4 linked regions of the Homo sapiens genome follow. The protein of the gene in region 4 interacts with the protein of the main gene of each other region in a biochemical or structural test. Each region holds a gene or a part of one and is shown on either strand. Other genes may lie near its edges. The genes, in order: CHFR, CEBPA, ERG and PARP1.

Region 1 (5,351 bases), on a different chromosome or scaffold from region 4:
ATACCAACTACTTGGGAGGCTGAGGCAGGAGAATCGCTTGAACCTGGGAGGTGGAGGCTGCAGTGAGCTGGGATCACACCATTGCACTCCAGCCTGGGTGACACAGTCAGACTCTGTCTCAAAAAAAAAAAAAAAAAAAGACTGCCTTGGGATATTAGTATACACCTATTAGAACAGCTGAAATAATATACAGCAGTGGCAATATGAAATGCTGGGAATAATGTATTCTGGAGTAACTAATCTCTTATACATTGCTGATGGGAACAGCAATAGTGCACCCACTCTGGAATATAGTTGGGCAGTTTCTTCAAAAAGTAAACAATTTTATGACCCAGCAACTGCATTCCTAGACATTGAACTCAGAGAAATAAACTTATGTCTACACAAAAGCCTGTACATTACTGACCCCAAACTGGAAACAACCAAAATGTCCTCTGACATGGTGAAACAAACCATGGACCCCCCACGCCACTCTGACATGGTGAAACAAACCGTGGACCACCCACGCCACTCTGACGTGGCAAAACAAACTGTGGACCACCCACGCCACTCTGACGTGGTGAAACAAACCATGGACCACCCATGCCACTCTGACGTGGTGAAACAAACCGTGGACCACCCATGCCATGGACACTACTCAGCAATAAAAAGGAGCTGACCACTGATGTGTGCAATAACTTGGACGAAGCTCCAAGGCATTACATCCAGGGAGGAAAACATCTCCGAAGGTCTACACTGCATGAACTGTACGATGTGTCCACTTATGTCACAAAATGACAGCATTATAGAGTGGTGGTGGGGTTCGGATGACTAAAAAGGGGTAGATGGAGAGAGATTTTTGTGGTGATGGAACTGTTCTGTATTTTGTGACCGTGGTTACGTGAATGTCCTCATGTGATAAAATGACAGAATGAAGAAAACACTCCACCAAGCTCAGTTTCCTGATTTTCATATTGCACTATCCTAAGGTGTAGCCAATGGGAGAAATAGGGAAAACATTTAATTAGCATAAGATCTAGTATTCCATAGCACAGGAGGGTGAATATAGTTAATAATAATGTATTGTATATTTTTAAATAACAAAAAGAGTGGAACTGGAATGTTCCTAACAAAGAAATGATACAGGCTTGAGGTGATGGATACCCCAGTTACTGGGAGTTGATCATTATACATTGTATGTCTGTATTAAAATATCAAGGTACTCCATAAATATATACACCTTTTATGTACCCACAGTAATTTAAAATTTTAAAAATTTAGCAAGCAAAATGTGACAAACATTAAATTTAAATACAGTTAGAAACAATGAATCTAATCATATACTAAGTTGATGGCACAGTGTGGGAAAAATGCTAATCTAAGTAAAATTCTTAACAGCTTTAATACAATTTCTATGCAATAAAATATACCCGTGTTGTGTGTGCAGTTCAGCGACTGTAGTAAATGTGCAGAGCTGTGCACCCATCACTCCAACCCAGTTTCCGGATACTTCCGTTACCTCAGAAGGATCCTTCTTGCATTCACTCCCTATCCCCTCCACCCAGCCCGACAACCACTCAGTCACCTTCTGTCTTTATGAATGTGCCTCTTCTGGACATTTCATAGAAATGGGATCATATCGTATGTGGCCTTCTGTGACGCCTTTTCACTTGCATGGTGTGTTTAAGGTCCATCCACACTCAGCACGTTTCCTCGCTGCACGATACTCCAGTGTCTGGATACACCCATTTTGTCTGTCCATGCATCAGCTGATGGACCCACTGAGGTGCCTTACGCGAGCCCAGCACTATTCTGCGTGCGGGGGGTCCCTGCTTTGGTCCAGTTTCATGTTTGTGTGTGGATACCTTCAGAGGGCGGTAACTGATGAAAAGAAAATAAAACTGGGTGAAGCGTTCGAGCGAGAGGGGCTACCATCTGCATGGGGCCGTCATTCATATTTATCGTAGCCTACTGTCTGCAAGTACTATTCTAGGCACTGTCCCAAATCCCTGCTCTTACAGAAGGTATATTCTAGTGGGGACCAGACAACAAGCATAGAAGGTGACAGAAAGAGTCAAGAAAAGGCAGAGGCAACCCTGGGGAGGCTCGCTGCTATTTCAGGCCGATGGTTGAGGGAGGACTTCTCAGGAGAATGTGAGCCAACAAGTAAGAAACGGAGTTGCTGGGCGTGGCGGCTTACGCCTGGAATCCCAGCACTGTGGGAGGTAGAGGCGGGCAGATCGCTTGAACTCAGGAGTTCAAGACCAGCCTGGGCAACATGGTGAAACCCTGCTCTCTACTAAAAATTAGCTGGGTGTGGTGGTGTGCACCTGTAGTCCCAGCTACTCAGGAGGCTGAGGTGGGAGGATCATCTGAGCCCAGGAGGTGGAGGCTGCAGTGAGCTGACATTGCGCCACTGCCCTCCAGCCCTGACAACAGAGCAAGACACTGTCTCAAAAACAAAAAAAGAAAAGGAAAAGAAAAAAAAGGAATCATGCAGGTACTGGTGGGAACAGTGTCCCAGGAGAGGGAAAGGCAAGGAGAACGAGTACTCAAAGGCACCTTTGAGGAAGTAATATTTGAGCTGAACGTGCGTGACAAGGAGGACCAATGCACGCACAGATCTGGGAGAAGAGCAGTGAGGTGAGGGGGCAACAATCAGAGCCACAAGAAGCCCCTGAAGAGAAGCCTGGGGCACTGAGGACAGCCAGCAGGATGACTCCTGGGGTTGGGCCTGAGCTACAGGGAGGCCATGCCATCTTCTGACAGTGGAGAGGGCAGGTCTGCCGGGCGTACGTGGTGGGCCTGGGGTCCCCACTGGAAACAGCTCTCTTTGACAACATGAATCTGGGATGTTTGAACACCAAGTGGAGCCATCAGGTCAGCAGTTAGAGCTGAGTGTCTGCCACAGAGACCTAGAGCTACAGGGTGAAGGAACGTGCTGGGGAGCAGGGGAGAGGGTGAAGCGGATGTTGGGTGCTCAGCCATGCCCCACACTCCACCTCCAACCACAGCACCTCTGAGACAGACTGGACCCTTCCTGAAAACAAAAACCAAACGGGATGAGTGTGTGGGGGGTAGTGAGCTTCCTGTGGCTGCTCTAAGAAGTTACCACCAACTTTGCTGCTTAAACTAGATTTATTCTCTTGCAGTTCTGGAGCTCGGAAGTCCAAAATGAAGGGGCAGGCAGGGCTGGTTCCTTCTGGTGGCCCTGCAGGGAGATCTGTTTTCTTTTCTGCTTCGACAGCCTGCCCTCCTCTCCTGGCTGGAGGCCCTTGCTCCCTCTGCAAAGCACATCCCTCCCACCTCTTCTCTGTCACCAAGCCTCCTCTTCCTGCCTTTGACTTCTTGCTTGCTTTTTTTTTTTTTTTTTTTTTGAGATAGAGTCTCGCTCTGTCGCCCAGGCGGGAGTGCAGTGGTGCGATCTCGGTTCACTGCAAGCTCCGCCTCCCGGGTTCAAGCCATTCTCCTGCCTCAGCCTCCCGAGTAGCTGGGACTACAGGCACCCACCACCACGCCCGGCTAATTTTTTGGTATTTTTTAGTAGAGACGGGGTTTCACCATGTTAGCCAGGATGGTCTCGATCTCCTGACCTCGTGATCCGCCCGCCTCAGCCTCCCAAAGTGCTGGGAGTACAGGCGTGAGCCACCACGCCCGGCCTCTTGCTTCCCTCTTACAACGACTCCTACTGTTGCACAGAGGGCCCACAAGCTAATCCAGGATCCTCCCCTCATCTCAAGGTCCTTAATTCCACCATATCTGCAAAGCCCCTTTTACGGTGCAAGGCAACATCATCACAGGCTCAAGTGATCGGATACGGGTATCTGTGGTGGCGGGACGGGGACATGGCTCAGCCCACCACGGAGTGTCAATGGTATCCAGCATGTGGGGTTTGCCAAACAACAACAAACAAAACCACCCAATTTTTATAAAACCCCGTGGCGTGCGAGCTTTGATGGCAGAGTGTTACAATATGTTCAAGCCCTAAATCCCAGGACCTCAGAGGTGACTGTATCTGCAGACATGGAACACGTCATGAATTTGGGTGTCATGCCTGCACGTGGGCCATGCTAATCTTCTCTATATCGTTCCAGTTTTAGTAGGTGTGGTCTTTAAAGAGGTGATTAAGATAAAATGAGGCCACTGGTGTGGGCCCTAATCCAATAGGACTGGTGTCCTCGCAGGAAGAGATTAGGGCACAAACACGCATGAAGAGAAGATGACGTGAGAACTCAAGGAGATGCTGCCCACGAGCCAAGGAGACAGACCAAAGAGGAACCGGCCCCGCTGACACCCTGATCTCAGAGTTCCAGGCCCCAGAACTGTGAGAAAATACTTTCTGTTGTTTAAGCCGCCTGTTCTGCGGCGTTTTGATCCAGCGGCCCAAGTGGACCCACATTCAAGGCCAGCACTGGGCAGGGCGGGTCTCACAAATGCATGCTCCCAGCACAGCGCACGGCCCTCACAGTGCCAGGCTCCCAGCACAGCGCACGGCCCTCACAGTGATAGGCTCCCAGCACGGCGCACGGCACTCACAGTGCCAGGCTCCCAGCACGGCGCACGGCACTCACAGTGACAGGCTCCCAGCACGGCGCACGGCACTCACAGTGACAGGCTCCCAGCACGGCGCACGGCACTCAGAGTGCCAGGCTCCCAGCACGGCGCACGGCACTCACAGTGCCAGGCTCCCAGCACGGCGCACGGCACTCACAGTGCCAGGCTCCCAGCACGGCGCACGGCACTCACAGTGCCAGGCTCCCAGCACGGCGCACGGCACTCACAGTGACAGGCTCCCAGCACGGCGCACGGCACTCACAGTGACAGGCTCCCAGCACGGCGCACGGCACTCACAGTGCCAGGCTCCCAGCACGGCGCACGGCCCTCACAGTGCCAGGCTCCCAGCACGGCGCACGGCACTCACAGTGCCAGGCTCCCAGCACGGCGCACGGCCCTCACAGTGACAGGCTCCCAGCACGGCGCACGGCCCTCACAGTGACAGGCTCCCAGCACGGCGCACGGCCCTCACAGTGACAGGCTCCCAGCACGGCGCTCGGCCCTCACAGTGACAGGCTCCCAGCACGGCGCACGGCACTCACAGTGACAGGCTCCCAGCAGGGCGCACGGCACTCACAGTGACAGGCTCCCAGCACGGCGCACGGCACTCACAGTGACAGGCTCCCAGCACGGCGCACGGCACTCACAGTGACAGGCTCCCAGCACGGCGCACGGCACTCACTCCTGGTCTGACTGGCCTTCAACATTCTCTCCTGAGTCCATTCCTTCCACAGACATGCACGACCAAGTGTCTGCTCTGTGTGAGGAACTTTAAGACCCCACCATCTAGACTCACCGCCTCAGAAGGAGACAACCGT
Region 2 (8,513 bases), on a different chromosome or scaffold from region 4:
GTTCTGGGGGGAAAGGGGGAAGCCAGGGATCAGCCCCCTCAAACAAGAAAAACTGGAATTAGCACTGAACTCAGAGGGTTTGCTGGGGCTTAGCAAGCTGCGACCTGCCCCAGGCCTCGGGGCACGCGGCGGGGCTCTGCCTCCTCTGTTCCCAGGGTGGCGGGGCAGGCGCCGCCTCCTCACTGGGCTCGTGGCCTCTCCTCTGCCAAGGGCGGCCGTGGGTGAGGAGGCGGCCAGACACAGGACAGAGTGGGGGGCCGGAAGGGGTGCCAGCTAACCACGCAGGCAGGTAAAGCTAAGCTTCCAGAGTGTAAAAGGAATGTGTAATTTCTCGAAAATGCCCCAGCCCGCATTGGTACACACAGTAAGCCACTCAGTGAACATTCTCTCGGTACAGAGTTAAAAAAAAAAGAAAAGTGCAATTTATCTTTTACCCTCCGTGAGGGTAAAATCTGAAAAGCACCATCAGCCTCCTGGGCCTCTTTCTCCCGGGCCTTGTTAGTTCAGGGATAAGGGCTGCCCTCCCTTGCTTGGCTGTCACTGCTGCTAAGGGGGTGCCGGAGTGCCTGACCTTACAGGGTGCTCATTGGAGTTGGGGGCACACCAGCACTCAGTCCCCTGCTGGGTCTGGGATGAATGCAGTGGGGAGTGTGGATGCTGGGTGGGTTCTTGAACAGCCAGTGTGTGGGGCAGGACCAGACCCCTGTTGCAGGCCTGCCTCAGCCCCCTTTCTTGTGAGGGCTGGGGCTGGGCAGGTGTGGAGGGCTGGATGGAGGGGTCTCTCTCTTCAGGCTGCCTTCGGGCCTCGCAGGGGTAGGGTGTAGCCACATGGTCTAGGGAAAGAGGAGAGGGTTGGAGGGTCCTACCACTGGAGGCCTCTTCCTGCTGGCCGAGGGTCCTGCTGGAATCTGGAGCTGCGGTGTGTGTGAGTGGCCAGGGCTGCAGCTGTAGGTGATTTGCAAGGAAGTCTGCACAAAGGGCTCCTTGAGCCTAGGGCTGCTTAGCCAGGCCTACCCCTCAGGCAGAGGACTCCCTCTCCTCCTCCCCGGGGCAGATAAGAAGCCTCGCCAAGGCCTCAGCCCAGTAACCCCTTCAGCCCCCTCCCCTGACCCCAAGAGACTGCCTTCAGGCTCTGGACATACTCCATTTGGAGCCTTGTCCTCTGCTATTTATTTGTCTTGCCTGGGGGAAGTAAGTCACCCCCTTAGGGTAAGAGGGGCTCAGGATGGATGGAGAGCTCATGAAAGTCAGGATTGCCGCCAGGGAAAATGCTGTATTATTTACAAATGTGACCTGGCCCACAGACAACCTTGGAAGTAGCTTCTTTCTGGTTTTAAAAAGACACCGACATTGACTTTGATATGTTTATATTATAGATATAATACATAAAACATCTAGAGTGAGACTCTACGTTCTCCCCAAAAGAAGAGAACCAAGCCGTCCTTCCCTGCTCCCAGCCCCAGTGATGCGTTGGCGGGAGGCCACCTCCCTTCCCGACCAGGAGCCAGGGCCTCTGGGGGACAAGCCTTGTGGGCAGCCCAGGCCGGAGGGGCTGGGGAAAGCTGAGGGCAAAGGAGAACCCCCCTCACCTCATTGGTCCCCCAGGATCAAAAGTAATCCCAAAACCAAAAGGAAAGGGAGTCTCAGACCCTTCCCCCAGCTGCCGACGGAGAGTCTCATTTTGGCAAGTATCCGAGCAAAACCAAAACAAAACAAAAACCAAATAAAATGGTGGTTTAGCAGAGACGCGCACATTCACATTGCACAAGGCACTGCTGGGGCACAGAGGCCAGATACAAGTGTTGATATCGGCTGATAAAGCAAAATATTTGGAAAGCTTGTCATAACTCCGGTCCCTCTGGGATGGACTGATCGTGCTTCGTGTTCCTAGGCAATGCTGAAGGCATACAGTACAAACAAGGCTGAGGGTCCCAGTGGCCCTTCACCCCCCATGCCCGCCCCACAGCCAGATCTCTAGGTCTCCCTCTCCCACCAGGGGTATACATCCTCAGAGCTGACCCACGACCTAGCTTTCTGGTGTGACTCGGGGTGGGGGCTCCCACTGGTCACCTGGTGACCCCCATCGCAGTGAGTTCCGCCCCAAGGGGAAGCCCAGCCTATAGCAGGCTGGGGTGGGGTGTGTGCGGAGGGAGGTGGGAGAGGCGTGGAACTAGAGACCCTCCACCTTCATGTAGAACTAGGGGAACAACCTTAGGTTCCAAGCCCCAAGTCCCTATGTTTCCACCCCTTTCTAAGGACAGGCGTGGAGGAGCGGCTGGGGCTGGCGGGCTTGTCGGGATCTCAGCTCCCTGAGCCCTCCTCCTGCCACGGGCCTGCTCCCCTCCTTCTCTCATGGGGGTCTGCTGTAGCCTCGGGAAGGAGGCAGGAAACCTCCAAATAAAATGACAAGGCACGATTTGCTCCCCCTACTCAGTAGGCATTGGAGCGGTGAGTTTGCATTTCCAAGGCACAAGGTTATCCTAAATACTAGAGTTGCCGGGCTCCCAGCTCAGCCCCAAGAATTCTCCCCTCCTCGCAGGGAGAAGCCACCGCCTGGCCCCCTCATCTTAGACGCACCAAGTCCGGCGCAGAGGAAGGGAGGGGACACGCGGAGCAGGCCAGGCTTTCAGGAGGCACCGGAATCTCCTAGTCCTGGCTCGCACGGCTCGGGCAAGCCTCGAGATCCGGCGACCCCAAACCACTCCCTGGGTCCCCGCCGGAGGCTGGCCCAGGGCGGTCCCACAGCCGCGCGCCTCACGCGCAGTTGCCCATGGCCTTGACCAAGGAGCTCTCTGGCAGCTGGCGGAAGATGCCCCGCAGCGTGTCCAGTTCGCGGCTCAGCTGTTCCACCCGCTTGCGCAGGCGGTCATTGTCACTGGTCAGCTCCAGCACCTTCTGCTGCGTCTCCACGTTGCGCTGCTTGGCCTTGTCGCGGCTCTTGCGCACCGCGATGTTGTTGCGCTCGCGCCGCACCCGGTACTCGTTGCTGTTCTTGTCCACCGACTTCTTGGCCTTGCCCGCGCCGCTGCCGCCACTCGCGCGGAGGTCGGGGTGCGCGGCGCCCAGCCCCTTGAGCGCGCTGCCAGGGCCCGGCAGGCCGGCGGCACCGAGCGCGGGCGCGGGGTGCGGGCTGGGCACGGGCGTGGGCGGCGGCGTGGGGTGACCGGGCTGCAGGTGCATGGTGGTCTGGCCGCAGTGCGCGATCTGGAACTGCAGGTGCGGGGCGGCCAGGTGCGCGGGCGGCGGGTGCGGGTGCGGGTGCGAGGGCGGCGGCGGCGGCGGCGGCTGGTAAGGGAAGAGGCCGGCCAGCGCCAGCTGCTTGGCTTCATCCTCCTCGCGGGGCTCCTGCTTGATCACCAGCGGCCGCAGCGCCGGCGCCCCGACGCGCTCGTACAGGGGCTCCAGCCTGCCGTCCAGGTAGCCGGCGGCCGCGCAGCCGTAGCCGGGCGGGGGCCCGTGCGCTCCCCCGGGCATGACGGCGCCGCCGGGGCCCGCGGGCGCGCCCGGGTAGTCAAAGTCGCCGCCGCCGCCGCCGCCCGTGGGGCCCACGGCCGCCTTGGCCTTCTCCTGCTGCCGGCTGTGCTGGAACAGGTCGGCCAGGAACTCGTCGTTGAAGGCGGCCGGGTCGATGTAGGCGCTGATGTCGATGGACGTCTCGTGCTCGCAGATGCCGCCCAGCGGCTCCGGGGCGGCAGGTGGGGCGGGAGGCTGCGCGGGGCCCGCGCCCCGGGGAAAGCCGAAGGCGGCGCTGCTGGGCGCGTGCGGGGGGCTCTGCAGGTGGCTGCTCATCGGGGGCCGCGGCTCCGCCTCGTAGAAGTCGGCCGACTCCATGGGGGAGTTAGAGTTCTCCCGGCATGGCGAGCCTCGGCGGCCTCCAGCCTGCGCGGGGCGTCGCCGCCGCCCACCCGGAGACCCTGCTCGCCCGCGCCCGCGCACCTCCGGGTCGCGAATGGCCCGGCCCGCGCCGGCCCAGCTTTTATACCCGGCAGGCCGCGTCGCCCCCTAGAGTCCGAGGCGGCCTCTGTCCCCGGGCTGCGGCGGCGCGGCGCCTGCTGGGTCCTAGCGCGCGGCCGGCATGGGGCGGCGAACCAGCGCGGCACAGCGCCGCGCTCCCCAGGCAGGCCGCGGCGCAACGCCCACCGCCTCCAGCGCGCCCAGCAGAGCCGCGGCGCTCGCTCCAAGCTCCGCCCCCGGCCCGGCCGTCGCCCCCGCGCCCACGTGGTCGGTAGCGGGGGCCCCCTCCTCCTGCCTGCCCTAGGCGCCCGTATCCAGCCACGGCCGGGAGCCCAGGAGTATCCCGAGGCTGCACGGGGTAGGGGTGGGGGGCGGAGGGCGAGTCTTGGTCTTGAGCTGCTGGGGCGCGGATTCTCTTTCAAAGCCAGAACCAGGCCTGTCCCGGACCCGCGTCCCGGGGAGGCTGCAGCGCAGAGCAGCGGGGCTGGGGCCGGTGGGGGGCCGTTTGGGACGCGCGGAGAGGTCCTGAGCGCGGTGGCTCTGCGTCTCCTAGCTCTGATCTCCAGGCTACCCCTGTGATTCCGCGCAGAGGTACCTCTCGGAGGACGCCGGGGTCCCATGGGCGGCGCCGCGCAGGGCGCTAGGACCCCGCGGGGAGCGGAGGCGGCCTCGGCCCGGGAGCCTGGAGGACCTGGCCGGTCGATCCGCCCGGGCTGGAAAACTTTCTTTATAATTACTTCTCCAGGTCGGAGCGCGCGGCTTGCTAGGCGCGCGGGGCCGGCGCTGTTACCCGGCGTGGAGTCGCCGATTTTTTTTCCTGCGGGACCGCGGGGCCCCCCAGACTAGCGGAGCTGGACGCCGGGGCGAGCACGGGGAGGGGCGCACCGAGGGAGGAGACAAACTTAACTCTGGGGCCGGGATTCCGAGGCGGGGGCCGCAGCCCTCGAGGCCCGAAGCCACCGCTTCCTCCCCCGCCTCCCCATTCAGGTGGGCGCCAACGGCGGGAGCGAGGGTGTCCAGGCCGCCGGGCTGCCAGGTCCGAGCACGCACAGGGAGAACTCTGCCCAGTGGTTCGCCGGGCGCTGTAGTCCCCGGGATCCTAGGGACCGAGGCGGCCAGGCCCTGGGGCCCCTTGAGTGCGGCAGCTAATGCTCTCACCGCGGCGGGGGAAGGAGCTTGCCACCGAGACCCCCAGCCACGTGCGTCCCTCGCATTCTTTACCGGGGCCGGGGTGGCGGCTACGGACCGTCAGCTGGGCCCAGATGGAGTCTTGGGAGCCCTCAAGTGTCTCCTGTCCTTGCCCGCGCCGCCCCTCGCCACTGGCGCTGAGGCCTGACGCCGCCTGCGTCCCGGCTAGAGGCGCGCTTGCCTACAGGTGAGGGAAGACCCCCTTCACCGACAGTGGCCTTAGGCCTGGCAAGGCGCCACGACCCGCCCAGGAGCCCCGGAGGGGGCACAGCTAAAAACACCGCTGGAGAGCCCCGAGCTTCCACGACGATCGCAGTAAAGAAGCAGTTTCATCTGGGCAACGCACACTGCGCTTTAATCAAGTTCCTATTCAACATAGTCCCAGTGATTAATAGCCCAACTGCTTCGTTTTCGGTCCAGAGCTCATAAACAAGATATTTTTAGCTTGACGCTTTTGGACGGGAGGGAGTAAAAACCAGATACGTTAAATAAATATCCCGATGTGAGCCGGAGAGCTGCTTGCTGAGCCAAATGCAGGACCCATTCATATAGCATTCACCTGTGGAGGGAGACCTGGACGGAAATCAAAAAGCACCAAGAGCGATTTGCGTTTTTTTCTGCGGTGCTAAAACTAATGGCTTTTCCTACCTAGGAACAAAGAAACGCCACTGTACATGCACGGTTCCCGGCCTGTGGAGTTGTGGGAGGAAGGCGATGTCTGGCCTTTTTTGCACAGCTGCTGTTGCCTGCCCAGAGATCGGGAACTCTGCCCCGTAGGACTGGAAGAAACCTCAGTAATGGGAATAAGACTTTGTCCAATAGGGGGCTGATGAATGTGTGGGGGCGACAATGGCAAGGAGTGGGACTCCCGGCCCGGGGTTCGCCAACCCCAGGGGCCACAGGTCCTCCTACAATTGAACCAGAATTCACCCACCCGGGCCTGCCCTGTGCAGGGTGCCGAGAGCCCAGGGATGCATGAGAGGGTGGCTCCTGCCTCTGGGAACTGGGACAGTGGGAGAGACGGATAAGTTGTCACACAGAGGCTGCTGGGAGGAAGGAGGAGACAGAAGGAGTAGGGGATGGGACTTCATTCATTCATCAAATGCACACGAGGCACAAATGGGAATCAAGGGTGGATGTGCTGTGATGAAGAGAAGTCCTGCCCTGAACAAGGTGGCGCTGTGGAGGAGGCAGAGATCAGATTTGTCTGCGGAGGTGTTATGGACTGAACTGTGTCCCTGCCCCAAATTCCTATGTTGAAGGCCTAACCCCCATGTGACTGTATTTGGAGATAAGGCTTTTAGGAAGTCATTAAAGTGAGATGATGTCATATGGGTAGGGTCCTAATTTGATAGGATTGGTGGCCTTATCAGAAGAACAATGTCATGGGCATGCACAGAAAGGAGGTGGCCGTCTGCAAGCAGGGAAGAGGCCCCTCACCAGAACCTGAGGGTGCTGGCAGCTTGGCTTTGGCCTTGGGCATCCAGCCTCCAGAACCATGAGAAATAAATGTTTATGGTAGGTCTATGATGGCAGCCTGCTTGGACTGAACCGGCGGTGAGACAGGGCTTCATGCAGGAGCAGACCTTTGAGCTGGGCCTTGAAAGTTGAGCAGGAATTTGCTGGAAGGATAAGGGAGGAAGGCTCTTCTAGGAGGAGGGAATGGTAAGTGCAAAGGTGGAGAGCCTGCCAGTGCATGTGTTCTGGTAACAAAGAACGAGATGGTTGGCCGGCTGGAGAGTGGGGTGAGGGAGGGTGGGGCCTAGATAAGGCTGGATCCGCAGACAGGGCTGGGCTGATGGCCAAGGCCACTGCAGGTGAAGGGGGAACCCTTATCTCCCAGGCTTTTGACCTCCAGATTTTAGCAGGGGAGCTTCGTTGTCGGATTTGGGTTCCTGAGAATCTACTCTGGCCAAGACGGAGAGGGGGTGTTGACCAGATGGGAAAGGATGGAGACTTGTATTGCCCCAGTAATGAGCGGGCAGGGTAGATTAGAACAAGATGTCAGGACTTGGGGGCTGAATGCCAGGCTTCTGGCTGGGATTACCACCCCCTGACACATATAATGCCCAGGAAATTGGAGGCCCCTCTCCAAGCCCCCAGGAGGCCACTGGGGACTCATTCCAGGATACTCACCTGCCTGCTTTGTGGTTTTGGAGGGGAAGACCTTGGAGCAGTTGCGAAGATCCATCTACCATGTTCTGGTTTTTCCTTGGAAGCCTAAAAGTGTACCTCGGGATGAGGAGGAAATGGTTTTGAGGGCAAGTGGTAGGTCTCTGGCTAGGCCTGGCGGGGTTCTCAGAGGACAGGGGGTGTCTAGGGCCCTAGATAGAAGTGTCCTGCCCAAGCCCTAAAGCAGGAAATTAGCTGGGGAGTTGGGGTGAGACCCTGGGGTCGATGGAGGCACTTTCCATGGGAGAGTCCCACAGGGTAAGGGAGAGGGGGCTGATGTCTGACAGTCTCATAGACAGTTGGCTTGTGGCTGGAGAAGTGGGAGCAAAGGAGAAATCACCTTTGATTGGGAGAAGTGGCTCTGGCTCATGTGCAACTGAGACAAAGCCAGTCCTAAGAGCAGCTTGTAAATTCTTCTGTGACCACCTTTAAGGTCCTTCTTCCTGAGGCTGTGGATGGGGGTGTACACAGGCCCAGTGTGGGGGGTTGAGCGTGAGTCCCCGGGAAACGGTGGTCCTGAGTTTTGGATGCTCCAGGATGAAGCCTGATTCTGGAGTCAATCACAGCACTAACCATTTTGAGAAGACAAACAGAGCCCTAGAAATGTTTTATTTTACTTTGGTTTAACCTTCCTAATGCAAGGCCCACGAGAGAATTAGTACGTAAGTTTGGAAATCAATCAAATTCTGAAGAGCAAAAACGGAACTAACCCTTCTGATGTAGTTTTCTGACTTTATCTGAAGCTGAAATGTGTGTGTAAGATTGGTCGCTCCAAACAGGACCAATTCAGATAAGATAAAAGTCCAGAACTATGATTTCAGGCTCAGCTGAGCTCTGGCTAGGGGTACAAGTATCTAATATGGTATAGCTAATAATGTCTCAATCATTCAATAAGATACTCTCAAAGGCCTTCCTCCAACTAGACAAACAAAACAAAATAAAAACACTAGTTACTTTTTGTTACAAATGGATTCATAAACGGTTTTATACTGATTCATTTTAGGCTTTAGATCTTGACATGTAAAGCATATGAACTCAACGCATAATCAACCCAAAGTCCAGTGTTTCTTTTTCTTTCTTCTTTTTTTTTTCGAGACAGGGTCTCACTCTGTTGCCCAGGCTGGAGAGCAGTGGTTGGATCTCAGCTCAATGCAACCTCCGCCTCCCAGGCTCAAGTGATCCTCCCACATCGGCCTCCT
Region 3 (8,908 bases), on a different chromosome or scaffold from region 4:
AGATAATCACTTATAAACGTAGATAATTAAGAAATGGTTCAGGCTCAGCACATTGTCTGAGAGCATTGCAGTCCTGCACTGTATTTCATGGGGGAAGAAAAGCCCACAGATGGAGCCATTCTCAATCCTGCTTTCCAGGGTCACTGAGTCAGGGTGCCTGGCATGCATGGGTGCATGCACACACAGGCAGAGGGCCAGGGAGAACTGTGCTGTGTCCACAGAGGGCAGCCTGGATCACAGAGCTGACCAAGAACGGAAGCAGCAAGTTGTTTTAAAGTAGTTGCCTGTAAAGCCACTTTTCGGCAAGGACAAACACTCAGAGCATGCTCTGAAATGACTTATGCACAGCAGGGCAGCGGCATTTTGCCCCTGGCCTTCCTTCCATTCTCCCGGAATCCCCCTAAAGTAACAAGGACTGACGCAATTCGTATTTCACTTAGCCAACAGGTTGATGAAAAATCATAAATCTGTAGCTATTAAACTCATTAATCACATCCATCAAAATTCTGTGAGGAGTTAACTTTCTTCATATAACTCTTAGTCTTAATTAAGTTTCCCTCACATGTGATAGCAAACGTTCAAGAAGTGCAAATGTGCAGACGTGGCGTATATAATGCAAGCTTTATGTCTTTAAATTAATAAAATTGAGTCCTATCAGGTCGTGTTTCAATTACCATCAAACCTTCCAACCTCTGTTAATTCAAAAAAAAGTAACTTCTTTAGGCAAGTCATGGAAATAGCACTAGGGTGCCCTCAGGTCTCCACCAAGCCTTGTTAGTAACTTTCCATGTCCTGTCTGATTTTTAAGATGCTTTCCCCTGATGCTGCTGCCGGCTGCTGGCTCTCTCCACATCCTTCAATGTCAGATCTCTGTGATGATGGAAAATCCCCCACATTCCCTTTTTACACATTAAGTATCTTTCTAGGATCAGAACTTGCAACCTGGGGTTCATGTTCTCCTTAAAAGGTCCGGGGAGAGGACTGTATTTCTGTTGTAATTCTATGTATTTCTTTTTAGGCACCAGAAAGTATTATTCTGAGAAAGGACTGTAGGCTTCACTAGACTTCCCAAATTGCAGATGGCATTAAAAAAAAAGGAATCAGGAAAGTCTTTGGGAAATTAGGCTAAAACTCCTAACTGAAGCACAATCGAGTTTTCAGTGCAACAGCAGGATCCCTGCAGTCTGTAGCAAACACTGAGATGTTTGTGGGGACAGTGGGGCCGGTGAGGTTCAGCACCTCTCAATATTGTCAGATGTCACCAATGCCCAAGGGAAGCACCAAAACCAATCAGTGAATTGTCTGCAAACCATCAGCTTTGTTGCTTCCAAGTCTTTACTAGAACTCTTAAGCTGATCTTAAAATTCACAGACACTTAGAGATAAATGAACACTCTCACATAAGTTCCCAAAATTCCTTTACTTCTTCCAATTGAAACATTTTGTTCCCAATTTCAAGTTACCAAGGGAAAATGATGGTAAGAATCACAAAGACTGGATACGAATATTTAGCTTTTCATAGTGTCTCATAGGGTCTTACAAATGTTAATGCAAAAAAATAAAAACTCCACTCAAATGCAGAAAACCAACTTAAAAAATTCAGAGCATCTGATACCTAATCGACTAATTGATTTATTTACTGAAACAACAAAAAAACAGAGTGCATTGAGACTGGAAATTGCCTCTATGGGGGGCTGTTTCCTAATTCCAGTGGACAGCCATCATTTTCCCTATGCTAACTTGGGCTTTGCGCTAACGTAATTGAAACTGTAGTCAACAGACTCAGGACCTCCTTTTTCCACTCTATAAACAAGGCTGTAAAATCATCTCATTACTTTACCCAGGAAATCTAACAGAAACATGTCTTAAAGGAAGTCACCTATAAAGAGGGCCTATTTTAACAGAAGATTAAAAAAAAATTCACCTGTAGTCATTCTAAGGGTTCACTTGGGTACATACAATAAACACATAATGCAATGTAATAAAATGTTAAATCAAGCATAGTACCTTAGACAAGTGTAAACTATTATTTCCAAAAAAGTGTTCAGAAAATCACAAAATATTCAAACTTTCAAAATAGCTTCATGTATTCATAAATGTATACTTCAAATTAAACAGTATAACACATTTGGATGTTTTGCAAAATGTACCTACCTTCTAAAGGATGGTCTGTTATTTCAATGTCCTTTTTAATGCACTGAGTTTTTTGGGAAAAAAAACCACATAAGATCGTACCCAAGCTATTCAAGATTTACACAGAATATTTGATTTAACATGCATATGAATAAGGATGAAAATAAGAACAAAAAAATAACATTTTGGGTCACAAAATCAAGTAATTTCTATTCATGTAGCTATAAGTAGGGCACATTAACTCTCAATTTTATAATTCCTGTCTATAGGAGCCATATTTCAGCAGATTCCAATCCTTGAAGCCAAAGAAAGAAAAGTATAAGGTGAAAGTTCTTGGTACACAGATTTTTAATATATTATTGAACACACCTTGAGAAATAAAAGCTGAACTTCTCAAACACAGTTTCTATGGTACATATGAGTCAAATCTTCTAATACAAACATTTCAAATTATGAAAATACCAAACCAAAGAGTATTTTTGAAAATGGCTTGGCCCAATTCTGGGCAAACTTCCATTTTCTTATGCACTTTCCAACAAACTAAAAGCCTTATGAAAACACCACCAAATGCTTCTCACCTCCGTGCAGCAAAACTAAAGACATGCAACAAACACAATTTTCTTTTCCCTCCACTCAGCATCTGCTTTTGTTGCTGATTTTTCACATTTCTACAAATGTCACGAAGGCATGGTGGCCTTTAAAACAACTGAACGGACCCCCATTCAAGACTGCATGCCCCTTGACTTGTAGTCACCATTAAATTGGCTTCATTTCCAGGAATCAGGCCATATTTAGGATTGTACCTGTGCAGATTTACCTCCACATTAATCTCTACATGCTATCTACTAAAAACTTAGGCAAGGAAATGCATCAGACCAAACACCCCACAGCACAGAGAACCGACCGGCCATTGCTTTCCAATCTCCGCAAACCTAACCATTGCTGGAAGAAATCTTACTCACAGTGCACAGACAGTAGGTATTTTATTGAAGATAAACATATAGTGGAACAAACCAAATTACCCCCATTTGAGTTACGTGAGCACTCAGTTCTCAGCGTGGATGTCCCACAAATCAAGTCAACATTTGCGTCCCATTACCAGCAGCCACTTGCCGAGTATCTCTTCGCTTCCACTGGGACTGCCTGGCATCCCTGATGCTAAGGAGCCACTGAAGAGCCTCCAAATGTCTGACATTCACAAACGCATCTTTTGCTTTGACCCGACCCTTCAACCTCTCCGAGTCTGCTGCCTTTTCTCAGACACACATCCAGGCACCGTTAGGGATAGTTAGAGAATCTGAAAATTCAGAAGCGCTCCGAAAAGCCTTTCCAAAAGTAATCCACAGCACTCAACAGTGAATTTAGAAACCCCAATTTTTTTCTGAGTTTGAAGTTTTTAAGCCTTGCGGATGGTTGGAGTAGGAAAAAGGAAATTTACTAGGCAGTGCAAAGGAAATCTTGTTGTCCTCTATTGTGGCAGTGGGGGTGTTGCCCAACCCTAACTTATCTGCCTTGATAAAGGAAACCAAAGAAAAGAGTAACAAGAACAAGATTTTGTCAAATTAAAAGGAACCCTTTCCTTACCTTAATAGTGCTGGCCATAATGCGATCAAGTTTATTGATCGTTAATAAATGTTAATAATAATTATTGCTTCTCTCTGACCAGAAAGTAGTTTTGATGAGGTTGTTTAGAGCGGATGAGATTGTGCTAAGTCTGGGAAATGAAGTCAGCCAATGGCAGGAAGAGGTTTCTATTGGTCCTGGCTGTCCAGCCCAAAGAAACAGGATATTTGGGAGTGGAGAGATAAGAGACCCTGAAAACAATGTTGTTTTTCTTGATGATATGCAGCCAGGAGATTTTTTTTTTTTAATTAAAAAAAGAAAAGGCATCAATTGGGATGGGGACTGCCACAGCAGGTGTGACCGGTGTGCCGCCGTGTGACACACTGCACTGAGACCAAGGCAGGATGCAGATGTGATGGGACTCCGCATGGCTTCACACGGGCTGCAAGCACCTTGGAGCCAAGGCGTTGAGGGCACCCCACTGCCCTGGGTGTCAGCCCTTCGCAGCCCAATTCTTCGCAGAATTACTAGGACAGAGGACTTGAGCTCCTTTCTCCTAAAAGGAAACTTTGCAGGTGGAGTTTATTTCATGTTAATAGATGGCCATGTTCAGTAACAGCCATTGCCTGGCTGATTTTTAACAACCTATATTTATTCAACATTTCATATAAGTGTTCCAGAACAGTTTCATTTTCTCCTTCCAAATACCTGCACTTTTTATTTGCTCTACAACAAAGTTGTTGAAAACGCAAGGACTCTAGGCTTACAGTAAACACAAAAAATAAAGAGGAAAAATAAACCTTCCTAAGTCTTGTTTTCAAGTATTTATTAAAACCCAAATAACTGAAGTGACTACAAATGTCCCGGAATATCAGTGAGCTGGTCTCACTCTGACAGACATCCATGTTGCAGACAACAGATCCTCATAGAACTTTTGGCTACCCAGAGATGCCATGTGAGGGCCCCATTACATGTCTAAAATCCAAGCTATAAGTTCAGGGTCACAGGTCTGTTTTCTCCTCGAAGGAAGTACAGCGAATGCAGGCCTGAACATTCCTTAGAGGGTTTCAGGACTTTAATTACTCATTTTCAGGAAATTGCTTGGAAGAAACATTTTGCTTTGAATCTAGCTACAGGAACGCAGGACCCATAAAGAGGTGTGGTCTCAATAGGCGACCCCAAGAACACAATAGACTAAATCCTGAGTCATCTGACAATTCCTGGTTGCAGAGCTGGACGTTCAGTAAATGGATTTCACTCAGACTTTAGGCCGGCATGTGTCAGAGTTCTGTCCACCAGCCCAGGTCATTCTGGCTTTTATTATATACCTCTGATTTATCACCTCATGTTAGGACAAAAGAAGGAGGAGAAGGAGAAAGATAAGGGGGGAAAGGGAGAGGAAGGAGAGGAGGAGGAGGAGGGAGGGAAGAGGGCGAGAAAAAATGGAGAAGGAGAAAGGAAGGACAGAAGAGAGAGAGAAAGGAAGGAGGATGGGAGGAAGGAGGGAGGAAGGAAGGAGAAAGGGAGGGAGGGAGGGAAAGAAAGAAGGAAAAGAAAAGAAAGAGAGTATATTGTAAGAAAATCATTCTGTGGAAATCAGAACCTAAGTTCTCAGCACCTACATTATGAGGGGGTGTTGATTTCCGCTCTTTTCATCTCTGAACAATGAATAAGATGGCAGGCTGATTAAAATTCTGTTTCCCCGAAAATTTCAAAGTCCTGAGCTGTTTTATCTGGGCAGCTTCCACTAGAATTCTGGAGTGCGGAGGAGAAAAGCTCTCTCAGCTTCCCTGAGTGTCCTTGCTTTTTGTTCTCTCCTAAGAAGCATCAATGTAAAATGTTAACTGTGGCCTCCACAACACATGGCACCTGATTATGCCTTTACCAAACACCAGCTTTAAATAAGATGAACGCTTTGCTAATGAAATAGCCACGGAAGAAAATCCTGTGTGGTCCCGCCTCACCCACGCCTCGTGGTTGCTAATCCAGCCCTCAGTTGTTCCCTGCAGCAGGAAAGATCAGCATTTCTACTGGGACCTAATGCTTCAGTGATGATTTGGCCTTAACTCCCTGGTTCTTGCCTAATGCAAATCAAACTGTGAAGAGTGGGATTTCTTACCTCTCTATTTTGAAATAATTTCCAACTTACAGAAAAGCCACAAGATAATACACCAAACTCCTAATACCCTTTGCCTGGTTAACTCTGATTGTCTACTGGTGCCAATGTACATCATTTTCTCTGCTTTCTCTCACACATGCTCTCTCTCTCTCAATCTCTGTCTCTCTCTCCCATATTTATTTATGTATAACATACATGCATGCATATATCCATCATTTTCTAACTAATAAAAATATTGTTTTATAAGAGACAAATTTATTTATTGGATACTAAAAAAGAGAAAAACAGATGCTATTATTTGATCAATATTCGATCCATAAGTTTTACTGCGTCTAATTTTGGAAATGCATACAAACATAAAAAGTGATCTAATAAAAAGTTAATTTGGGGATACTGAGTGGTAAATTCTGTTCCAAAATTTTACAAAGGAAACTCCTCCTCATTTCTAATGACAAAATGTTTGATTGATTCCTGTTGTCTTCAAAGAGAATAATTCTTGATGTTTCAAATGGCATCATAGCATCCAAGCCTGGTAATCTCTGACTATTTAATGTAAAGTGTTTTAAAAAAATCTTTGGCTCTTGATAGGACAAGGCACATCTTTTTTTTTTTTTTTTTTTTTTTTGGGACGGAATCTTGCTGTCGCCCAGGCTGGAGTGCAGTGGCGCGATCTCGGCTCACTGCAAGCTCCGCCTCCCAGCTTCACGCCATTCTCCTGCCTCAGCCTCCCGAGTAGCTGGGACTGCAGGCGCCCGCCACCACACCTGGCTAATTTTTTTTGTATTTTTAGTAGAGACGGGGTTTCACCATATTAGCCAGGATGGTCTCGATCTCCTGACTTCATGATCCACCCGCCTCAGCCTCCCAAAGTGCTGGGATTAAAGACGTGAACCACCACGCCCGGCCAAGGCACATCTATTAACTAGAATATAGCAGTGCAGAAACCGTTTCCCAAATATTATCCTATGGGGAAATTATCTGAAGATATAGATATCACTCTAGCTTTCCTCACTTGTACCCCAAGTCTATGTTATTAAATGGCCTCATCCCTACACCACCCAGCAGCCTAAGAACCAGGCTGCCTTTCCCACCTGATACCTCCTCTCCCTAGGGAAATATGCCCTCCAAGCCACCACGCGGACCAAGTTAGGGGGCAATCTGGCACACGGCCCCTACCTGAGGCCCGTCCTGCCATGAGCCTATCAGGGCAGGGTCCTTTTTCACTCTCCTTGAGATGCAGTAATCACCACACTAGACCAGCACAGCCCATACAGTAGCTGTGGACAGCAGAACCTATGAATAAAGCACACATTTCCCTTGCATGCTTCTCTGCCACAAACCCATCCCCTGTGAATCTGCCAAAACCTTCCACTAGTCTCCTCACATTTTACTCCAAAGAAAGAAACAAAATAATATAACATAAATATACCATAAATTCACTGTCACAATAAAAGAAACACTAGTATTTATTTATCCTAAAATCATTTCTTCCCATTTTCTAAAGATCGAACAAGTTCTCATTCTTGTTCCCTTACTAACTTCTCTGTATGGAATATGGGGAGGAAGGTTAGGAGCTAAGAACACTCTGAATGACAGCCACATGGTTCTCAATGTAATACATGCGCAGAGCAAAGAGAGGAGATCCGTCTGAACCTCCACATCTGTGGGGACACAACAGAAGATTCACTCATGACTCATTCACGTCTTTATCCCTGCCCTATACATCCCTACAATGGAACGCCCTTCCTCCTCAAAAACATTGCAGGAAAATGATGTCGTAGATGAACACTTAGCAATATGGAAAACTGCTCTGATATTTTACCTGGTTAGTTAAAAAATCACAGTATATAGGAGAATTATATCCATAGACTCATTTTGTTAAAAATAAAAAGGCAGTTGGGGATGGCCGTGCATTCTGTTCCAAAGCATCTGTGAACCTGAGGAATAGACACCATGAGCGAAGCTAACCTTCCCGAGTTGAAAAATGAAATGCAATGGTGGCAGACATGTCCAAGGAATATTATGGGGACTCGATCCCTTTATGAATCTTGTCATAGATGAATGTGTGGAGATGTCAACTAGTTGGCAGCAGAACAGTATTGGAACGGTGGTAATACAAGGAAATAGTATCATCATATTAGAAACTTTGGAATGAGTATAAATAATGGCTGTTCAACAGAAAAACCCATGTCCCCTCTCCAAAGGGCCTGTTTCACTATATGTAAAAATTAGGTCATGTATGTTTTCATATTAGACTTTTTGTTAAATAACCTTTTTTTTTTTTTTTTTTGAGTCTCACTCTGTCGCCCAGGCTGGAGTGCAGTGGCGTGATCTCAGCTCACTGCAAGCTCCGCCTCCTGGGCTCATGCCATTCTCCTGCCTCAGCCTCCTGAGTAGCTGGGACTACAGGTGCCCGCCACCACCCTGGCTAATTTTTTGTATTTTTAGTAGAGACAGGTTTTCACCATGTTGGCCAGGATGGTCTCGATCTCTTGACCTTGTGATCCACTCGCCTCAGCCTCCCAAAGTGCTGGGATTACAGGCGTGAGCCACCACGCCCGGCCAATAACCTTTTGTAATAGTCAAAAAATAAAAAATAAATAAAAAGGCAAAGTAAAAATATTGACAGCTATATCTTATAATACCAATGGCAGAGAAGCTTTTTGTTTTTTCCCCTCTTCTTCTTTGGTTCACTTATATTTTCAAAACATAAATTTGTAATAAACATAAATTATATCCTAATATAAAAATATGTAAGTAACATGCAATGTTGTTCATTTTTGTAAATATCTGAAAAATACAGGCATGTTCTGTAAAAAGTGCAGCCCACAATACTTGTAGGTGTCAAACCTTTTAGCATGCCCAAATGCCTGTTCTTTTTTAAATGTCTACAGCAAGCATAGAGCTCTTTTTTTTTTTCATTTTATTAAGAAAACCCAGAAACGCTCAAGAGTTTCGTGGAGGCCATCTATGCGGCATTAATCCATTCAGGTGATATTAATGGCCTTTTCCTGCCAGGAACTCCAGTGGGCACTCAGGAAGCCAGGATTACAGGGCTCTATCCAGTCACCGCATGTCTCGGCATTCGGGAAGC
Region 4 (8,601 bases):
AATCCCGAATGTTGGAGGTGGGGCCTGGTGGGAGGTCACTGGATCACCGGGACAGATTTCTCCCTTGGTGCTGTGTCATGATACTTGTGAGTTCTCCTGAGATCTGGTTGTTGAAAAATGTGTAGCACCTCCCCTTTCACTCTCTTCCTCCTGCTCCGGCCATGTCAACTGCCGGCTTCTCCTCTGCCTTCTGCCATGACAGTAACAAGGTTGGAGGACTGACACTACCCAACCTAAAGACTTACTATGAAGCCACAGCAGTCAACACAGTGTGGTACTGGCAAAAGGATACGTAGATCAGTGGGACAGAACAGGGAGCCCAGAAACAGAGCCACACAAGCACAGTCCACTGATCTTTGACAAAAAAGTAAAGGCAAAAATGGAGAAAAGATAGTCTTTTCAACAAACGGAGCTGTAACAACTGGACATCCACATGCGAAAAAAAAAAAAGAAAAAAAATAAAGGAATCTAGACACAGACCTTACACCCTTCACAAAAAGTAACCAAAATGGATAACAGACCTAAATGTAAGACACAAAACTGTTAAACTTCTAGAAGAAAATCTATATGACCTTGGGTCTGGTGATGACTTTTTACAAACACCAAAAGCCCAATCCACTAAAGAAGTAACTGATTAACTAGACTTCACAAAATTAAGAACTTCTGCTCTGCGGAAGACCAGCCACACACTGAGAAAAAATATTTTCAAAAGACATATGACAAAGGGCTGTTATCCAAAATATACCAAGAACTCTTAGGACTCAACAGTAAGAAAACAAACAATGTGATTTTAAAAAGAGCAAAACCAGGAGTTTGAGACCAGTCTGGGCAACAAGGTGGGGCCCTGTCTCTACAAAAAATTTAAAAAAATTAGCCAGGCATGGTGGTGCGCACCTGTAGTCCCAGCTACTCAAGAGGCTGAGGTGGGAGACAGAGGTCAAGGCTGCAGCGAACTGTGATCACACCACTGCACTCTAGCCTGGGCGACGGAGCAAGACAGTCTTAAAAAAAAAAAAAAAAAGTGGGGGTAGGGGCAGGCAAAAGACATTTCACCAAAGATATACAGATGGTAAATAAACGTATGAGAAGATGTTCAAGATAATTACAGTATTAGGGAAATGCAAATTAAAACAATAATAAAATACTATATATCTATTGGAATGGCCAAAATCCAAAACAATGATAACACCAAATGCTGGCAAAGATGTATAATGATACGAACTCTCATCTATTGCTGGTGGGAATGGAAAATGATTCAGCTTTTTGAAAGACAGCTTGGCAGTTTCTTACAAAACTAAATATACTCTTACCACATGATCCAGCAATTGTACTCCTTGATTACCCAAAGGAGTTGAAAACTTATGTCCCCATAAAAACCTGCACATGGTGGGTGTTTCTAGCAGCTTTGTTCATAATCACCAAAACTTGGAAGCAATCAAGATGTCCTTCAGCAGGTCAATGAATAAACAAACTGTGGTAATCCAGACAATGGAATATTATTCAGTAATAAAAAGAAATGAGCTATCAATACGACAAGACATGGAGGAATCTTTTTTTTTTTTTTTTTTTGAGATGGAGTTTCGCTCTGTTGCCAGGCTGGAGTGCAGTGGCATGATCTCGGCTCACTGCAACCTCCGCCTCCCAGTACAACCAATTCTCCTGTCTCGGCCTCCCGAGTAGCTGGGACTACAGGTGCACACCACCACACCGGCTAATTTTTGTATTTTTAATAGAGACAGGGTTTCACCATATTGGCCAGGCTGGTCTCGAACTCCTGACCTCGTAATCTGCTGGGCTCGGCCTCCCAAAGTGCTGGGATTACAGATGTGAGCCACCGTGCCCGGCTCGACATGGAGGAATCTTAAGAGCACATTGCTAGTGAGAGAAGCCAATCTGAAAAGGCTACCTTCTGTATGATTCCAACTATATTATATTCTGGAAAAGGAAAAACTATGGAGAAAGCAAAAAGATCAGTGGTTACTGGAGGTTAGAGGGGAGGGAGGAATGACTAGGCAAAGCACAGAGATTTCCCAGGCAGTGAAAGGACTCTGGAGGCTACCATAAAGGTACATGCATGTCAATGTATGTTTGTTAAAACTGACAGAATGTACAATGCAAAGAGTGAGCCCTCATGTAAACTACAGACCTCGAGGGATAACGATGTGTCAATGTGGCTCATCAGTTATAACCATGGACCACTCCGATAACGATGTGTCAATGTAGCTCATCAGCTATAACCATGGACCACTCTGGTGGCGATGTTGATTGTGGACAAAAGTCTGTGTATGTGTGGGGTGGGTAGGGCTAGCGGGTATATGGAAACTCTGTACTTTACTCAATTTTGCTGTGAACCTAAAACTGCTATAAGAAAAAAAGTCTACATACAGAAGAATGTCATGAACCTGGGAGGCGGAGCTTACGGTGAGCCGAGATCACACCACTGCACCCCAGCTTGGGTGACAGAGCGAGAATCCGTCTCCAACAACAACGAAAAAAGTTTACATATAAAAAAAGGTTAAACAGACAATGGAACAGAAATTTTTAAAAGGACCCCAAAATACAGAGATTTTGTGCATGATACAAGACACCTCTCAATGGGGGAGATGAATAAGCCAATAAACAAAGTACAAAAAATTAGCTGGGCATGGTGGCAGGCACCACGCTACTCGGGAGGCTGAGGCAGGAGAATCGCCTGAACCCGGGAGGCGGAGGTGGCAGTGAGCCAAGACCATGCCACAGCACTCCAGCCTGGGCAACAGAGTGAGACTCCATCTCGAAAACAAAACAAAAACAAAAACAACAACAAAAAAACAAAGTAGGGAAACTAGATCATCATCTGGAAAAAAATAAAACTGGAGTCACGCCTCACACCACACATCAGCACACACCGGGATAACTCTCAAATAGAGTAAACATTTAGATGTTAAAAGAAATAAGGAACCATAAAATTACACGTACTGGATGTAGTTCATCTGTATCCCCAGGGTGGGCTACCTGACAGTGGCTGCTGGTGCCACAGCCTTGTTCCCTAGCACTGTCACTGCCTCAGGGTAAGGGCCACACCCTGGCATACCCACCCTGTAGTGACCACCACAGTAACAAACACAGCACTGTCACCAACAGGCCAACTCTTTCAAAACCAGGGACTGAGAGTCCTCCCGCCACTTCCAGATCTAGAGGCAGCTCTGGCTGCAGGGCGTGACTGTGCAGAGGCCAGGAACACAGTCTGGAAGTGCAGAGAACCACAGCACCTCCAGCGAGCTAAAACCAATGAGAAACAAGAGGCAGAAAGAACCAATGGATAATGCTGCTCCCTTCCTCCTGCTCCGAGGGGCTTTTCTGAAGCTTAGTGGCAAAGGACTTGCGTGAGGGCATCCTGCATGACCAAGCCATTGGCTGTTTCTCATGAAGCCATGGCCAGCTTGACAGCGTATGGCACTGTGCTTGCCCTCCTGCCTCCCCTTCCTCCCTCTCTCTTGCTGCCCTAGGATTACCTCTCCTAATAAAGCTTTTAATAGCTTTGCTTTCTGCTCTGCTATGTCACCTGACGTGACCTGTACTAAGACATGGGAGAAGACATAAAAGGAGAAAACTGTGGAGACAGTAAAAAGAGCAGTGGTTGTCAGGAATTAGGAGGGATAAACAGGGGATTTTTAGAGCAGTGAAACTGATGCAGGGCAGGCCAGCCCTAAATTGGGGATTGGCCTGGGCGGGTCCTTGGCTTCGCTCTGGAAAGCATTTAAGAGCGAGCTCGTGGTAGAAGAAAGCAGCTTTATTGAGGCAGCAGTGTTATGGCTCTGTGACTGCTCCTGCAGAGCAGGGCTACCCCACAGGCACTGTGCTGAGAGCAGCAGCTCAAAGGCAGTTCTGAAGTCATATTTACACCCACTTTTAATTATATGCAAATTAAGGGGCAGACTATGCAGACATGTTAAGAAACGGGGTGGTAACTTTTAGGTCATCAGATTGTTGTCACAGAAAGGGGTGGTAACTTCCGGGTATTGCCATGGCAATGGTAAACTGATATGGCACACTGGTGGGTGTTTTATGGAAAGCTGCTTCGTCCCTGTCCCTGCTTTAGTTAGTCCTCGGTTTGGTTTGGTGTCTGAGCCCCACCTCCTACCTCATTCCCCTCTCAGAGATGAGCTATTCTTCCTTAATCTTAAGGGGGCTGCAGAAGGGTGCAGGTCTGAAACTACTCTGTATGATACTATAATGGCAGATGCATGTCATCATACATTTGTCCAAACCCATAGAATGTAGAGCATCAGGAGTTTCTGGACTCTGGGCAATAATGATGTGTCAGTGTAGGTTCCTCAATTATAACAAATGTACTACTCTGGTGGGAGGTGTTGACAAGGAAGAGCCTGTGTGGTGGGAGGGGGAGGGGGTACTGGAAACTCTTTGTTCTTTGCTTACTTTTGCCATGAACAAAAATAAAGTATATTAAAAACAAAACAACTTTAAAGGCTACATTCCAAGCACCTGGAAAAACAAAATACCAAATATCATGCAACAGATGATGCTGAGTCCAGGAGGTGTTGCTGAAATAACATGGGCACCATACGCTTGATCTGCACATGTGGGAGAGGGCAAGCTGGGGGAGGTTTGCTTTGCTCTCTGAGACGAGGCCCTCCTGGGAGCTTCAGGGTGGGGGCTGAATGCCCATGCTGCCCCAGTATGTACACACCTGTCACTCCTCCAGCTTCCGCTGTCTTCTTGACTTTCTGCTGGTCATCCCACCGAAGCTCAGAGAACCCATCCACCTCAACGTCAGGGTGCCGGATGGAGTGGCCCACCTTCCAGAAGCAGGAGAAGTGGTACCAGTGTGGGACTTTTCCATCAAACATGGGCGACTAGAAGGAAGAGAAACAGAGGGAAGTAAGTAAGCAGTTAACTTTTGACTTAGACCCACTAGACCTTGACCTTGACCTCGACCCCAGTCCCAGCCCCAGCAGTGGGATAGCACATGAAACTTTTGTTCTCCTATCTGTGAAAGGAGGACAGCCTCCGCTCTCACATGAAGAGCTGCAGCATCCTTCTCACGATCTTCCCCAAGGGTCAGAAGACTGTAGCCCACTGTTCTTGAGCTCATTCTCTTAGGACACCAAACACAGCCACGAGAAAGGTGGCCTTTTACCACTGAGCTCTGCCCCACGTCCCTTTTGACCACACACTGCTACATTTAGTGGTGAGCTGCCTCATGGCCTAGTGAAATGCACAGAAGACACTTGTGCAGAGTCACAATCCTGCAGCATCTGCTGGGAATGGCCAGACAACTGCTCCAGGCTTGCCTGGACTCAAAGGGCCTGTGTGCCCCAGAAAAGGGCTCTTTAAGTGCCTCTGCAGTTAAGAATAACAAGGAACAAGTCCCAGATAATGAGCAAAGCAGAGAAAGTGTGTCAGAAAAAAGTGTCAAGCTTGCAGCAGCCACACAGATGGGAGTGGAATGAATGGAGGTCTTTGAGGCAACTGTGACAGCGGATGGTTCGGGGCAGCATGCCTAGAGCTGGAGTCAGCTGCTCACTGGCCTTCTGGGGCGCAGTTTCCCAGGCGTAGGACCTGAGAAGTCTGGCCACAGGGAACACAGTTCCCCTCTCCAGGTGGTTTGCTTCCCACTAGGCCTTTCATTGTGACAGGGTCAGGTTCTGCTCCCAGGCCTCGAGCACTGTCTGGCTTTGTTTTTGAGACCGAGTCTTGCACTGAGTGCAGTGGTGCGATCTCAGCTCACTGCAACCTCTGTCTCCTGGGTTCAAGCGATTCTCCTGCCTCGGCCTCCTGAGTAGCTGGGACTACAGGCACGTGCCACCCATGCCTGGCTAATTTTTGTATTGTTAGTAGCAATGGGGCTTCACCATGTTGGCCAGGCTGGTCTCGAACTTCTGACCTCGTGACCCGCCCGCCTCGGCTTCCCGAAGTGCTGGGATTACAGGCATGAACCACTGCACCCAGTCCTGGCTTTACAGAGTGGACGGTGACAGCGATTGGGAAGAAGGGGAAGACACAGTATGTAGTGTGTGTCCCTGCTCCTTTCATAAGCCATCCTGTGTAATCCCACAATCTGCCTCTGGGTGGGAACCAGCCCTTTCATTCACAGATGGAGACAGTGGGGCTGGAAATCCTTGCCTGGGGGGTTGGGAGTCACAGAGGCAGCAAATGAATGATTTGACACTATGATTCCTCCCACCACACTCCACTGCCCGGCAGGAAGAGCTACTTAAAAATACACCAACTGTGATCTGACTAAAGTAAGGGAAGTCCCAAACATCTGCTTTTATAGAACATAAAGCTAAATGTCACACAGATGCAATAAGACTATTAAAACAGCATTAAAAGTAAATGTGCTGAATTTTTAGGATGGAGTTGCGGGGACAGGGAAAATACTCTGGAAAAGCAATGATAAGGTACCCCACTATCTCTCTCCACTGTGAGTGGCCTCTTTCTGGATGTGATGTATTAAAATGCACAGCTAAGACTATGGCAGCACAAGGACTCCTCAACATCAGCTTTCCCCTGGGTCTGGAATGCTCTCCAGCCCTGTTCAGAGCACTCCCTCAGATCTCCCAATGCTCCTTCCACAGCTCCCCTCACTAAGAACTATGCATTTGGTGATTATTTCATAAGGGCCTATCTTGCTATTCTCTAGCAACATGTCACAGAGGGCACGCAGTGTTTGCTTAGGGCTCCAAGTCAGATGGAACAAAAAAGGAAGGATGGGGAAATTCCTGCTGTAGAAGAGACAACAAATGGCATTTCTGAGAGCATACTCATGTTCCAACTCTCAAACGTTCCACCAGATCTCAATTAGGCTGCTGATACAGATCCCTAAGCATCTGGCTATCATGGAATATTTGCAATGGCCTCGACCTGGCTCTGCCTGCTTGTCTACCCCTTGTCTACCCTTCCTGTGCAATGTTCCAGTTACCCTTGTATAAAGAGCACAGGTAATGGCTATGGCACTTCTTCCTGGCTCTGCCAGGGGCCCCAGACCTGCTGCCCTTTGGTCTGGGTGCTGTCTCCCCCAACCACCGGCACAGTGCTGGACACCCTGGAGGTGCTGCCCAATGGTGCAATCACAGCACAAGCTTAGAGGACAAGAGCCTCAGCAGAAGCACCCCTGACCAAAGCAATGCTTTGCCCTAAACTCAGGACTGAGAATGATGTGGCAGAAAGGCACCAAACCAAGGTCACAAGACTATCGACTCCATTTGTTAGCTGCACAGCTGAGGCAAGGCACAGAATCTTTGGCTGTGCACCCAAGCAAAAACTGAGCACCTAACATACCAGGGTCCTCACCCAACCAGCAGCTGGTGAACTGGGTTCCCTTCTGTGCAGAACAGGCCATGCTACCTGTCCACCTAGGCCACAGAGAGAATGAACTGACCTCACTGCATGCCTCCGGGTGCTCAAACCCTCCCAGGACAGAGCAACTCAAAGGTCTACCGCCATCCTCCTCCCACCAAAATGCTGGAGGGCCCAGCTCATCCCTCCCAAGATGCCCCAGGCATGAGGGCTAAAGTGTCAGGTATCAGATACTCAGAGAACAATACTCCCATGTAAATGTAAAAGAAGGTATTTAAATTCAAGCAAGTGAAAAGGCTTCTTTCTTTTTGGCCTTCACCAGCTCAGTCTACCAGACCAACTTTAAATTCTGAATTAAAACTCTGAATCCACCCTTAATCACCATTACATAAAAATCACAGTTACTTTTAATAATAAAGAGTTTCTTTCACTATCAAGTATACCAAAGGAAAGCCCAGAATGTTGTTATTACTATTTTTTTTTTCAGACAGGGTCTGGGTCTGGGTCTGGGTCTGTCGCCCAGGCTGGAGTGCAGTGGCACTATCTCAGCTCACTGCAACCTCCACCTCCCAGGCTCAAGCAATCTTCCAGCTTCAGCCTCCGGAGTAGCTGGGACTTAACAGGCACGCACCACCACGACCCGCTAATCATTGCATTTTTTTGTAGAGACAGGTTTCACCATGTTGGCCAGGCTGGTCTCAAACTGCTGAGCTTAAGTAATCTGCCCACCCCAGCCTCCCAAAGTGCTGAGATTACAAGCATGCGCCACCAAGCCCGGCCCCAGAATGCTAAACTTGATCAGGTTCAGTTTCCTCCATCCGGCCTCCCCCACAGCTAAGCCTCCTCTAACTTCCTCCACAGCGGTGTTGTTCTAGCCTCAACACAGTCTGGACTTGGGTTTTGTTTGTCTTTCCACCAGAACACGGTACTCTGCCCACCTGTTAAGGCGCCTGGATGTCCCTTTCTCAGAATAACATTTAAAAATGCGTAATAAAAAGGCTCGCAAATGGCCAGTCACGGTGGCTCATGCCTGTAACCCTAGCACTTTGTGGGGCCGAGGTGCATGGATCGCTTGAGCTCAGGAGTTTGAGACCAGCCTGGGCAACATAGTGAGACCCCATCTCAAAAAACAAAACAAACAAAAAGGCTCGAAAAGGAAACACTGAGATAATTATCAAAACATTTGAAAGGTAATTTGGGTACAGTAACCCGTGAGCTTTTAAGCATTAAATAACAAGATCTAGTACAGCCTCTAATAACTGTGATTTTTGTAGCAATGAGAGTAAATTATATTTTGAA

The links.
Region 1: of the proteins of PARP1 (region 4) and CHFR, one has a biochemical effect on the other in vitro, tested with the Homo sapiens proteins (2 studies listed by BioGRID).
Region 2: the proteins of PARP1 (region 4) and CEBPA form a complex in vitro, tested with the Homo sapiens proteins (2 studies listed by BioGRID, with this or other methods).
Region 3: the proteins of PARP1 (region 4) and ERG form a complex in vitro, tested with the Homo sapiens proteins (2 studies listed by BioGRID and IntAct).

The regions. Positions count from the first base shown.
Region 1 is NC_000012.12:132,831,378-132,836,728, forward strand, and holds the end of CHFR (E3 ubiquitin-protein ligase CHFR), read right to left. Parts: 3' UTR 979-5,351; downstream 1-978. UniProt on the Homo sapiens protein: E3 ubiquitin-protein ligase that functions in the antephase checkpoint by actively delaying passage into mitosis in response to microtubule poisons.
Region 2 is NC_000019.10:33,298,584-33,307,096, forward strand, and holds CEBPA (CCAAT/enhancer-binding protein alpha), read right to left. Parts: upstream 3,952-8,513; 5' UTR 3,937-3,951; coding exon of another isoform or gene 3,832-3,936; coding exon 2,755-3,831; 3' UTR 1,351-2,754; downstream 1-1,350. UniProt on the Homo sapiens protein: Transcription factor that coordinates proliferation arrest and the differentiation of myeloid progenitors, adipocytes, hepatocytes, and cells of the lung and the placenta.
Region 3 is NC_000021.9:38,494,647-38,503,554, forward strand, and holds the start of ERG (transcriptional regulator ERG), read right to left. Parts: upstream 3,832-8,908; 5' UTR 3,735-3,831; coding exon 3,717-3,734; intron 1-3,716. UniProt on the Homo sapiens protein: Transcriptional regulator. May participate in transcriptional regulation through the recruitment of SETDB1 histone methyltransferase and subsequent modification of local chromatin structure.
Region 4 is NC_000001.11:226,397,524-226,406,124, forward strand, and holds part of PARP1 (poly [ADP-ribose] polymerase 1), read right to left. Parts: intron 4,857-8,601; coding exon 4,691-4,856; intron 1-4,690. UniProt on the Homo sapiens protein: Poly-ADP-ribosyltransferase that mediates poly-ADP-ribosylation of proteins and plays a key role in DNA repair.